Linked DNA regions of Homo sapiens: regions 1 and 2 are each reported to be linked to region 3. Evidence: microRNA targets listed by miRTarBase, many of them from high-throughput screens and not tested one by one. Region 3 holds a microRNA gene; each other region holds the end of a gene's coding sequence.
The links. The annotated mature microRNA hsa-miR-513a-5p reads UUCACAGGGAGGUGUCAU and lies in region 3 at 2,305-2,322, shown strand. An mRNA with a match to its seed (bases 2 to 7 or 8) in the 3' UTR can be bound and repressed. Matches are read on the target gene's strand: a 7mer-m8 pairs with bases 2 to 8, a 7mer-A1 pairs with bases 2 to 7 and ends in A, and an 8mer does both.

Region 1 (3,000 bases), not on the chromosome of region 3:
GGGCGCCTCTGCCGGGGCGCCGTCGCCCACGCTGGAGCTGGCTAGCCGCAGTCCGTCCGGGGGCGCGGCGGGCCCGCTGCTCACGCCGTCCCAGTCGCTGGACGGCAGCCGGCGCTCGGGCTACATCACCATCGGCTACCGCGGCTCCTACACCATCGGGCGGGACGCGCAGGCGGACGCCAAGTTCCGGCGAGTGGCGCGCATCACCGTTTGCGGAAAGACGTCGCTGGCCAAGGAGGTGTTTGGGGACACCCTGAACGAAAGCCGGGACCCCGACCGTCCCCCGGAGCGCTACACCTCGCGCTATTACCTCAAGTTCAACTTCCTGGAGCAGGCCTTCGACAAGCTGTCCGAGTCGGGCTTCCACATGGTGGCGTGCAGCTCCACGGGCACCTGCGCCTTTGCCAGCAGCACCGACCAGAGCGAGGACAAGATCTGGACCAGCTACACCGAGTACGTCTTCTGCAGGGAGTGAGCTCCCCAGACCCCCTCGCCACTCCAGCGCCCAGTCCTTCTCCTGCCCGAGAGATGATTACAGAGCCTCTTGTCCCACCTTTGTCCCCTGGCTGCTGCCCTCCCATTCTCCCCCTCCAGTAGTAGCTGGGTGAGACCTGTCCGCCCACCTTCCCTCCACTACAGAACCTGCAGCCGCAAATCCTCTGGGCTGCTTCGTCTTCTTTGGACCTCCTGAACCGAGAGAACCCAGAGGAACCCCCACCCCACCCCCACCTACCACTCCATGCTTTCTCTACTCCCTGCCTCAAACCACCCCTCCCCCAGATGGTACTTCAGTTTGGATCTATTGGGGGAGTGTGGCCACAGACCGGGGGATGATTGAATTGTTCAGAACCTGATTGGACCGTGTCCAATGTGCGGAAGATTTCCTTGAAATCTTCTCAAGCTCTTATGACTCACTGGGGGTTTAAGAGATCAGGATTGGTTCCACTGTCTGGGGTTAGTGTTTTACAAGGTCATTACACAGTCTTTTTGACCTCTTTTGAAGGTAGAGTTTTAGAAGGCTGGATGGAAGATTCTGAGCCTGGAATTAGGACCCCATGGAGGCAGTTCAGTAACTAAACTAATAAAGTTTTGAAAAGTTACACGTAAAGTAGAAGAATCTAGTGCGTGGGACAGTAAAGGATCCTTTCTCGTACAGAATAAAAGGTCTCAGCCTGTAGCTTAAACTTATAGAAAGTGATCCGCCTGCCTGCAGAGGCGCCCTTTTCAGCTGCTGCTCGCCAGAAGCCCTTGATTCCACTGGTTGACATGGCAGCAGTTACTGGCAAGAGGGAGAAAGGACGCTGCCGCCTAAGAGTGCAAGGCTGCTCAGGTCTCCAAGCGCCGTAGGAGGTCACCTGGCAGTGACTGTAGGGAGCTGGGTCATAGTGCACGTCGTGGGTATTAGGAAAGCCTGTATTCTTTCAATGAATGTCAGTAGGACCTTCCTTTAGCTGTAAGACTTGGTGGGCGGGGTGGGGTGGGGAGGGAGGAAAGGGTAGGAAGGGTGGGAAGGGAGAAGCAGACATAGTCATTTATGATTTGAAAGTTGGAAGTTTGTACCATCTGTTTGAGTATATGCACATTTAAAAAATATCATATAGTAAATGCAAACATGCCAAGTATTTTATAAAGATTAATAACAGACCTACTCTTACCTGGCAGTTTACTTAACTTACTGTTTTGAGTCCTAAACTTAGAGTTGTTAATGCTTATATATAATCTAACCAAAGAGTTACCCAGTAGGGTTTTAGTTTTTGAACTTTTATTTTCTTGTTGATTATAAATCCTGATTTTGGAATCTATTGCGCAAAAGAAGTTTCATTTTGGTTACTTAGACCTAAGATCACTTATTAAAAATCCTTATTTTCTCCAAGCCCAGCAAACGTTGACTTCTGGGCAAACCTGAAAACCTGAAAATGCCACTTTCATGCAGTTTGTTTGAAGTTAAGTGGAATCCTTTCAAATGACGAGCTGCAGAGAACTCAGCACCAAGGGCTGCCTATCTGTAGATAGCTGTAAAATGGAATATTTTTAAATGAAGGCAAATAAGTACTTAAAAGTGAGCTGAGCAATAAAATGGTCCAATAATAGGTAAATGCAACAGAAACAGAAGGAGACCTGGTTGCCTTATGCCTTTACTCTTACATGGAATAAATTCCCAATGCATATCCTATGTAAACCATAAGTGAAGGGAAATAAACCTCGTCATGCTCCATGCTGTGAGGTGTCCTTTGGATATTCTGTGATGACAGAGAAGCCTATTTTGTTTTGTTTTCAGCATCTTTCTCTGATGTACGTTTTTAAGGATTTTGTAAGAGCTGTTTTCAGTGTTTAAATTAGTGCTATTTTTCCTTGTTTTTAAAAATGAATCTCGTACTGTATCTTACTATGTCCATACAGATGTTACAAATCGACAGTTTTATTCTTAGACTCATGTGATCCAAGCTGTATATACCATATATAAACATTTTACATGAATCATTTAGTTTTTTAATTCATTTACTAATGCTATAAAATTTCCTATATTACCCCAGTAATTTGCATCAGCTGGTTTATATACTAAAGCAACATGTTTTGATGAGTTTCTTACATCCTTATCGAGGAATTGGGTTAGGAAAAAATACATAATTGTAAAACTGAGTTTGCTGTATTATACTTTTTTTCTTGAGTATTAGTTGTATTACTAATCATATGTTGATTAACTGTCTACTTAAAGTCAAGGTACCTGTATTTTTAATCCACTAATTTTTTTTTAGTTGGGAAATAGATTTCAGGTCTTTTATTAGACTAACATTTTTTGAGAAGTAAAATTGACTTCATATACAAAGCCTGTAATTTTAGGCGAAATGGAAGCAGAAATCTAGGAAGTTGTGCTTGCTTGTATGTTGAGTTTGGTCTCAGACTAAGTAATGCATCAGAATTCATCTGTTTGAAGCCTGAAATAATTTAGGACTCTGATTCACTGACCAAAAGTCAGTGTTGCAGAGATTTCTCTACCCC
Region 2 (3,000 bases), not on the chromosome of region 3:
ATTTGTTAGCACCTTAGAGCATGGTTAGCAGCTTAGAAAAAATAGAACTCTGATCATTTTGCTTTTCCCCCAACCCTTTGGGACAGTACTGAGGAAAGTATTGGGGTGGGGGGTTTGGATTTGGATTGTTTTTTGTTCAATAAAGAGTAATTGGGAGTTGGAGTTGGTTATGTATTTTCTTAAAAAGGGGAATTTCTTGGTCCACGTGTGCTTGTAATGCATCATCCAGCATTCAGTATTTCTGTTCTTACAAGTAACTGGTCTAAATTGAAGCTAAAAGAAATCTTTTTGTGTCTAATCTCTTTAGCAGGAGGAGCAATCTCAGAACTGTTATGAAGACCTTCGAAGTTCTTCATTCTTTCTCACTTTGCCATCATGTGGCCTCTGGACACTGTGGTCAGTCATTTGAAAATTGACTTTAATTTAAAACAAAGGCCTGTGCCTCCCACCCAGGAGGTGGGAGGGTGAATTTTATGTTTAAATGAAGAAGTGAATTATGGAAGAAGAGTATACGACCTTCCCTTCCCTTTCAAGCATAAGTCCAAATAGACTCTCAGGAATGAAGATTTGTGAAGACATCAGATAGGAATTTTGACTCATTTAAACTTTGATGCTTAGTTATGTTGCTGGAGAAAAGATACTTATGTTTTGCTCATCTAACTTCATTGTACCCAGCGTCATTTTGACATGTCATTTCCTATCTCCCATTTGCCTTCGGTCCTCAATGCATGTCTTTGAGTGACTTCTTATCTGAAATTTTGCTACTGGTATCCTAGGAAAGCTTTTGTTGGATACTCTCATTTTAAACTTCTCCTCTCCCCAGATACCTCCTATATTTCCATATTGTGTGCAAAGGATGGGCAGAAAAGAAAGTGCTTGAAAGATTTCAAATTTTCAGAAAGGGAACAACGAAGGCCCTCTCTTCCTCTCATACCACGTTTTGCTCAAGAAGCTGGGCTGTAACAATTCAGGGTTTTCCCTTGTTTTCCTCTCATTGCATGTTTCCCTCCAATATTGGTTCATTGTCATCAATCATGGTTTTTGAAGATAGCTAGTTTTATCCATCTCCAGCAAAGAATCATCAATAGTTTATATTGCTTTACCTGTGCTGGCTTCCAGAGATGGAAACAAACCCAGGTGTCTCTCAACAAGCTACTTTTTTACTGGGGTGGGGGAATCTATGCAAGGAGTAAAGTAAAACCATCCAGAATCAAAGCAGCAACCACATAGTTCAAATCAAAGATCAAGGTGAATTTTTTGTATCACTGCCTGTGGAAATCTATCCTCATCAGTCATTGCATTTTTCCCTGCCTATACCTGTGCTCCTTTTTCTTACTGTGTTTTCAGTCACTTCCTTTCTGTGAAAGGTTGCTTAGCTTTTTTTTTGACATTTGTTGTTCTTTATAAAAATAACAGATTGGATAGATGTGTACATTTGGTGTTTGAAATTCTCTGAAAATCCCATTAGGAAACCAGGTGTGAAAAGGGCTCAGTAGCTTCTCTGAGTGGCGTTTTTAGCTGACTGGAAGTGCTTAATCTGGATCGTCTTTTTTTTTTTTTTTTTTTTTTCAATATTTTAAAAGGAGAATTTAAATACTGTGCTTACTGTGAAATATATCAGTTGGTGAGCCGGGCGTGGTGGGTCACGCCTGTAATCCCAGCACTTTGGGAGGCCAAGGCGGGTTGATCACCCGAGGTCAGGAGTTCAAGACCAGCCTGGCCAACGTGGTGAAAGCCTGTATCTATTAAAAGACAAAAATTAGCTGGGCGTGGTAGTACATGCCTGTAATCCCAGCTACACTGGAGGCTGAGTCAGGAGAATCACTTGAACGTGGGAGGCAGAGGTTGCAGTGAGTGGAGATCGCACCACTGCCCTCCAGCCTAGGTGACAGAATGAGACTCTATCTCAAAAAAAAAAAAAAAATGATATCAGTTGGTGGATGCTCCTATAGGTAGCCAAACACATTGATTACCTGTTAGATTTTAGGATAGAAATCAAAGTAGAGCACGTCAGCAAGAGCCTCTTTGTCTCACTCCATCATTTAAAACCAGTATATTCAGTAGTTGAAGAAAGAGCTCTCCCTGAGTCAGTTGCAAAACGTCTATATTTTTAGATGCCACTACTTTTTTCTTAAATATTCATTTTGAGACTGTCATGAGTTAGACCAGTGGTTGAGATTAGTAGATGGCTCACTAGACATGTTTTTGTTTTGCAGACATTATATCCATTCCAGTCCTCTGCACTGTACACTGCAGCAGTGTGCAAACTATGGGACTTAGAGGGTTTCTGCCATCTTTCCACGTGTGAAGTAGCTTGGTTTCCTCTGCCTGTGCATTTGGATGTTTGTGCTATGTCCACCTCCTAAACTGGCTACTGAGAAAATCATCTTCAGCCCTGTCAGATTGTCTCTGGCAGTAGCTCCTAATAATTATTTATGTTTTTGGAATTTTTTTTTCAACTTTTAAAAAACCTTCTATCCATTTCAATTTGAATTATTTGATTTGTACAATATATGTATATTCTCTTCTTCCTTTTTGTCATCCCTGCCCTGCCACCCCCAAAATTTTGTTTTTAAAAATATTCTGGGCTGGGCATGGTGGCTCACACCTGTAATCCCAGCACTTGGGGAGGCCGAGGCTGGTGGATCATCTGAGGTCAGGTGTTTGAGACCAGCCTGGTCAACATGGTGAAACCCCGTCTCTACTAAAAATACAAAAATTAGCTGGGCGTGGTGGCGGGCACCTGTAATCCTAGCTACTCGGGAGGCTGAGGCAGGAGAATTGCTTGAATCCAGGAGGCAGAGGTTGCAGTGAGCTGAGATTGCGCCACTGCACTCCAGCCTGGGTGACAGAGCAAGACTCCATCTCAAAAAAAAAAAAAAAAAAAAATCTGTAGTTTTGTACAAGATGAGACTTAGCCTTGGGTACTTCTTGCTGAAGCTTTAATGCTTTGTAAATAAAATCGGATGTTTATTAAAGAACAGGTGTAGATGTTTATTT
Region 3 (3,239 bases):
ATGGGTTGTGTAATTTGAGTTTGTTTCCCATCTCCAAACAACCACATGCCCCTCCCCAACTCAAGAACTTGATGGGAAATGTAGGTTACAATGAAATAGAAGAAAACTACTCTACTTTCTTTCCTAATAGTATTACCATTCAACTACATGTGGCTACCCTTCATCGTATCTATTTCCATCCTTCTTGCACTCATAGGATTTCCTTGGGCTTTGAGGCTCAGATACCCTGATATATTTGTTGGTGATTGTGAGTTTTTAGCATGTGTTCTAGCACATTTGTTTGTGTTTATATGGTGATGGGGGGAGTAATACATGTATCTGTGTGCACTTTGGTGTATGTGCCCATACATTTGTGTGTGCACGGGGCATGTAGCATGAGGATTTTGTTATGTTGTTTTTGTTTGAGGTTGGATCTCTGTTTTGTTTTTGTTTTGCTTTTGCTATTCTTATCAGTTTATTTCATGTGTATGGTTTTGCTTTGTTTGTTTGACTTTGGCTCCTTTGGGATTATATGTGTTTGTTTGAATTTGTTTTCAGATTTGCCATGCTCTTGGTCATTGGTGTTTTGATTGGTATTTCTTTACGTACATTGCTTGCAATTTTGTATTTTCTTTTTGTTGTTATTTGGATTTCACTGTGTGATTTCGGTTATATTTTAATTTGCATATTAATTTGCACATATGTTGTTGGAACTTTGCATTGTGTATTGCTAGGGTTCTTTCGATGGCTTATCAATTCTGTTTATGGTTAGTTTTTTTGTATTCATATTTTGTTGTATTCTCATTCTTTTTAATATTGTTTACTTGGGCGTATATGTGTCTGTGTATGTGGTTTCATGGAGCAGTGGGTCTTAGAATCTCCTGCTATGATGTGCCAGGTTGCTGGAAAGACTCCTTTGAAGCTACTGAGGGGTGGGTGATGCAGAGGAAGAGAAGTAGTACCTGTACTGGTGTTTGAAGGAGGGAGTATTGTGTCTGTGTATTTTTTTCCCCTTGAGAACTTTTTGGGGAGATAGCTCAAGGGCCCAAATACTTAAGAGAAAAGCTAAATTGATTGATTGATTGATTGATATATATAAATATTTCTGTAGAATCTAACTTTGGTTGCTTTTCATGGAATTCAAAAAATGCAGTAAAATGCTTGAGATATTTAGAATCATTCTGTTCAGTGAACTATGGCTCCTTGACCGTGACTCAGCACTAACACTGAGCTATGTGCTTCTCTGTCTGTCTTTCAGGGGTTATGTTTAGTAGATGAATGAGAATGGTACATAGAAACACTCGGTCTTGACGATCATGTGGTCTGACTTCTACATGCTATCAAGGGCCAGAGCTAGAAGAATCCAGGTCTTTTAATTTGCCTCAGCTCATGATTATTTGTGTACATCACACACACACACACACACACACACACACACACACACACACACACATATATATATATATAGTTTTTTTTTGTTTTTTTTTTTTGAGAAAGAGTCTAACTAACTCTGTTGCCCAGGCTGGGGTGCAGTGGCATGATCTCGGCTCACTGCAACCTCCACCTCCCGGGTTCAAGTGATTCAGTGGCATGATCTCGGCTCACTGCAACCTCCACCTCCCGGGTTCAAGTGATTCTCCTGCCTCAGCAGCTGCGGTTACAGTTGCCCACCACCACACCCGGCTAATTTTTTGTATTTGTAGTAGAGATGGAATTTCACCACGTTGTCCAGGCTGGTCTCAAAATCCTGACCTCTGATGATCCACCAGCCTCAGCCTACCAGAGTGATGAGATTATATGTGTGACCCACTGCACCTGGCCTGATATTGAGGATTTTTAATGAGACAAGCAAATTAACGCGAAAACTAATGGGATAATCCAGACAAGGATTACACATCTCTGGGGAAGAGATGAAGTGAAATGTTATATTCTGGCTAAGCCTAAAATTTGTGTGTTAATTAGCCATTCGCGGTGGTATGTGCCTTTAATCCCAGCTACTTGGGAGGCTGAGGCAGGAGAAGTGCTTAGACACAGAAGGGGGAGGTTGCAGTGAGCCGAGATCACACCAATGCATGCCAGTCTGGGCGACAGAGCCAGACTTCATCTGAAAACAAAAACAAAAACAAAACAAAAATCTGCATGTTAAAATCTCACTTGGGGCAGGATGAAAAGGGGAGCGCCGGGGGCTACAAGTTGCATTGTCCCTTGGCATAAATCTTGGTGGCCATGCCAAGGCATACACCTATAGGGACTTGAAAAAAAACGGCATGAATAGGGAGCATTTGTTCTTGGATGCCACATTCAGCCATTCAGTGTGCAGTGCCTTTCACAGGGAGGTGTCATTTATGTGAACTAAAATATAAATTTCACCTTTCTGAGAAGGGTAATGTACAGCATGCACTGCATATGTGGTGTCCCTGAGGATGGGGGTGTAGCTGCGAGCATGGTGATGCCTGTTTTGCATCCTGTGCACCCACTCTTCAGTGCTGGGCTACTTCAGGGAACTTTTTGTGCCTTCTAAATGACTATACATAGGAACTGTGGACTCCTGAGAAAACGCATGCACTTCGGTTCCTTAAGAATTTATCTATTTTTGCCAAATGAGGCTTGGCTCAAATAAGAAATACATTGGATAGAGGCCACAGCCATTCTTCGTCAGCTGGAAGGCTATATTCCAGATTCCTAAACTTTTCTCACTTATCAAGAAGTCATCATTTGCAAGGATTCTCCTTTAGCGCTCCCAAAAGACTCTCCTGCCTCTCAGGTCCCTTCATTGCTGATCCACAGTGTCCATTTTCTGTCAAAGACTAAAACATTTTCTCATAGACTTTTAAAATACCTTTCAAAGCCTTCAGTCACCAATTTATGGAGGGTTAAGCGTAGTCCACCCAAGAATATTTCACCCTTTTCCATTATCTTTTTTCCCTGTTTTTTATGTTTGAACAATGGAAGCGTATGATAGAGTTGTTACTCAAGAGATATCTCCTAGTCTTCTCTCCCCATTTTCTGTCTTTTTTTTTTTTGAGATGGAGTCTTTCTTACTCTTTCACACAGGCTGGAGTGCAGTGGCGCCATCTCAGCTCACTGCAACCTCTGTCTCCCGGGTTCAAGCGATTCTTCTGCCTCAGCCTCCCAAGTAGCTGGGATTACAGGCGTGCGCCAACACACCTGGCTAATTTTTGTATTTTTAGTAGAGACCAGGTTTCACCACGTTGGTCAGACTGGTGTCGAACTGCTGACCTCGTGATCCACCCACCTCA

Region 1: the mRNA of KCTD12 is a reported target of hsa-miR-513a-5p. The part of its 3' UTR that is shown has no 7-base or 8-base seed match.
Region 2: the mRNA of RBBP5 is a reported target of hsa-miR-513a-5p. Seed matches in the 3' UTR shown: 7mer-A1 at 1,359-1,365 and 7mer-A1 at 1,606-1,612.

The regions. Positions count from the first base shown.
Region 1 is chr13:76,882,646-76,885,645 of GRCh38, reverse strand. It overlaps KCTD12 (potassium channel tetramerization domain containing 12), which reads left to right. Exons shown (of 1, transcript NM_138444.4): 1 at 1-3,000. The coding sequence ends at 475. Among named protein-coding and RNA genes, the nearest start is that of KCTD12, 2.3 kb to the left of the region's middle. RefSeq lists a silencer at 1-113 and an enhancer at 1-226.
Region 2 is chr1:205,086,123-205,089,122 of GRCh38, reverse strand. It overlaps RBBP5 (RB binding protein 5, histone lysine methyltransferase complex subunit), which reads left to right. Exons shown (of 14, transcript NM_005057.4): 14 at 308-2,981. The coding sequence ends at 336. Among named protein-coding and RNA genes, the nearest start is that of TMEM81, 3.2 kb to the right of the region's middle.
Region 3 is chrX:147,224,983-147,228,221 of GRCh38, reverse strand. It overlaps MIR513A2 (microRNA 513a-2), which reads left to right and starts at 2,270; the gene lies at 2,270-2,396. All of the region lies in intron 2 of LOC105373347 (periphilin-1), which reads right to left.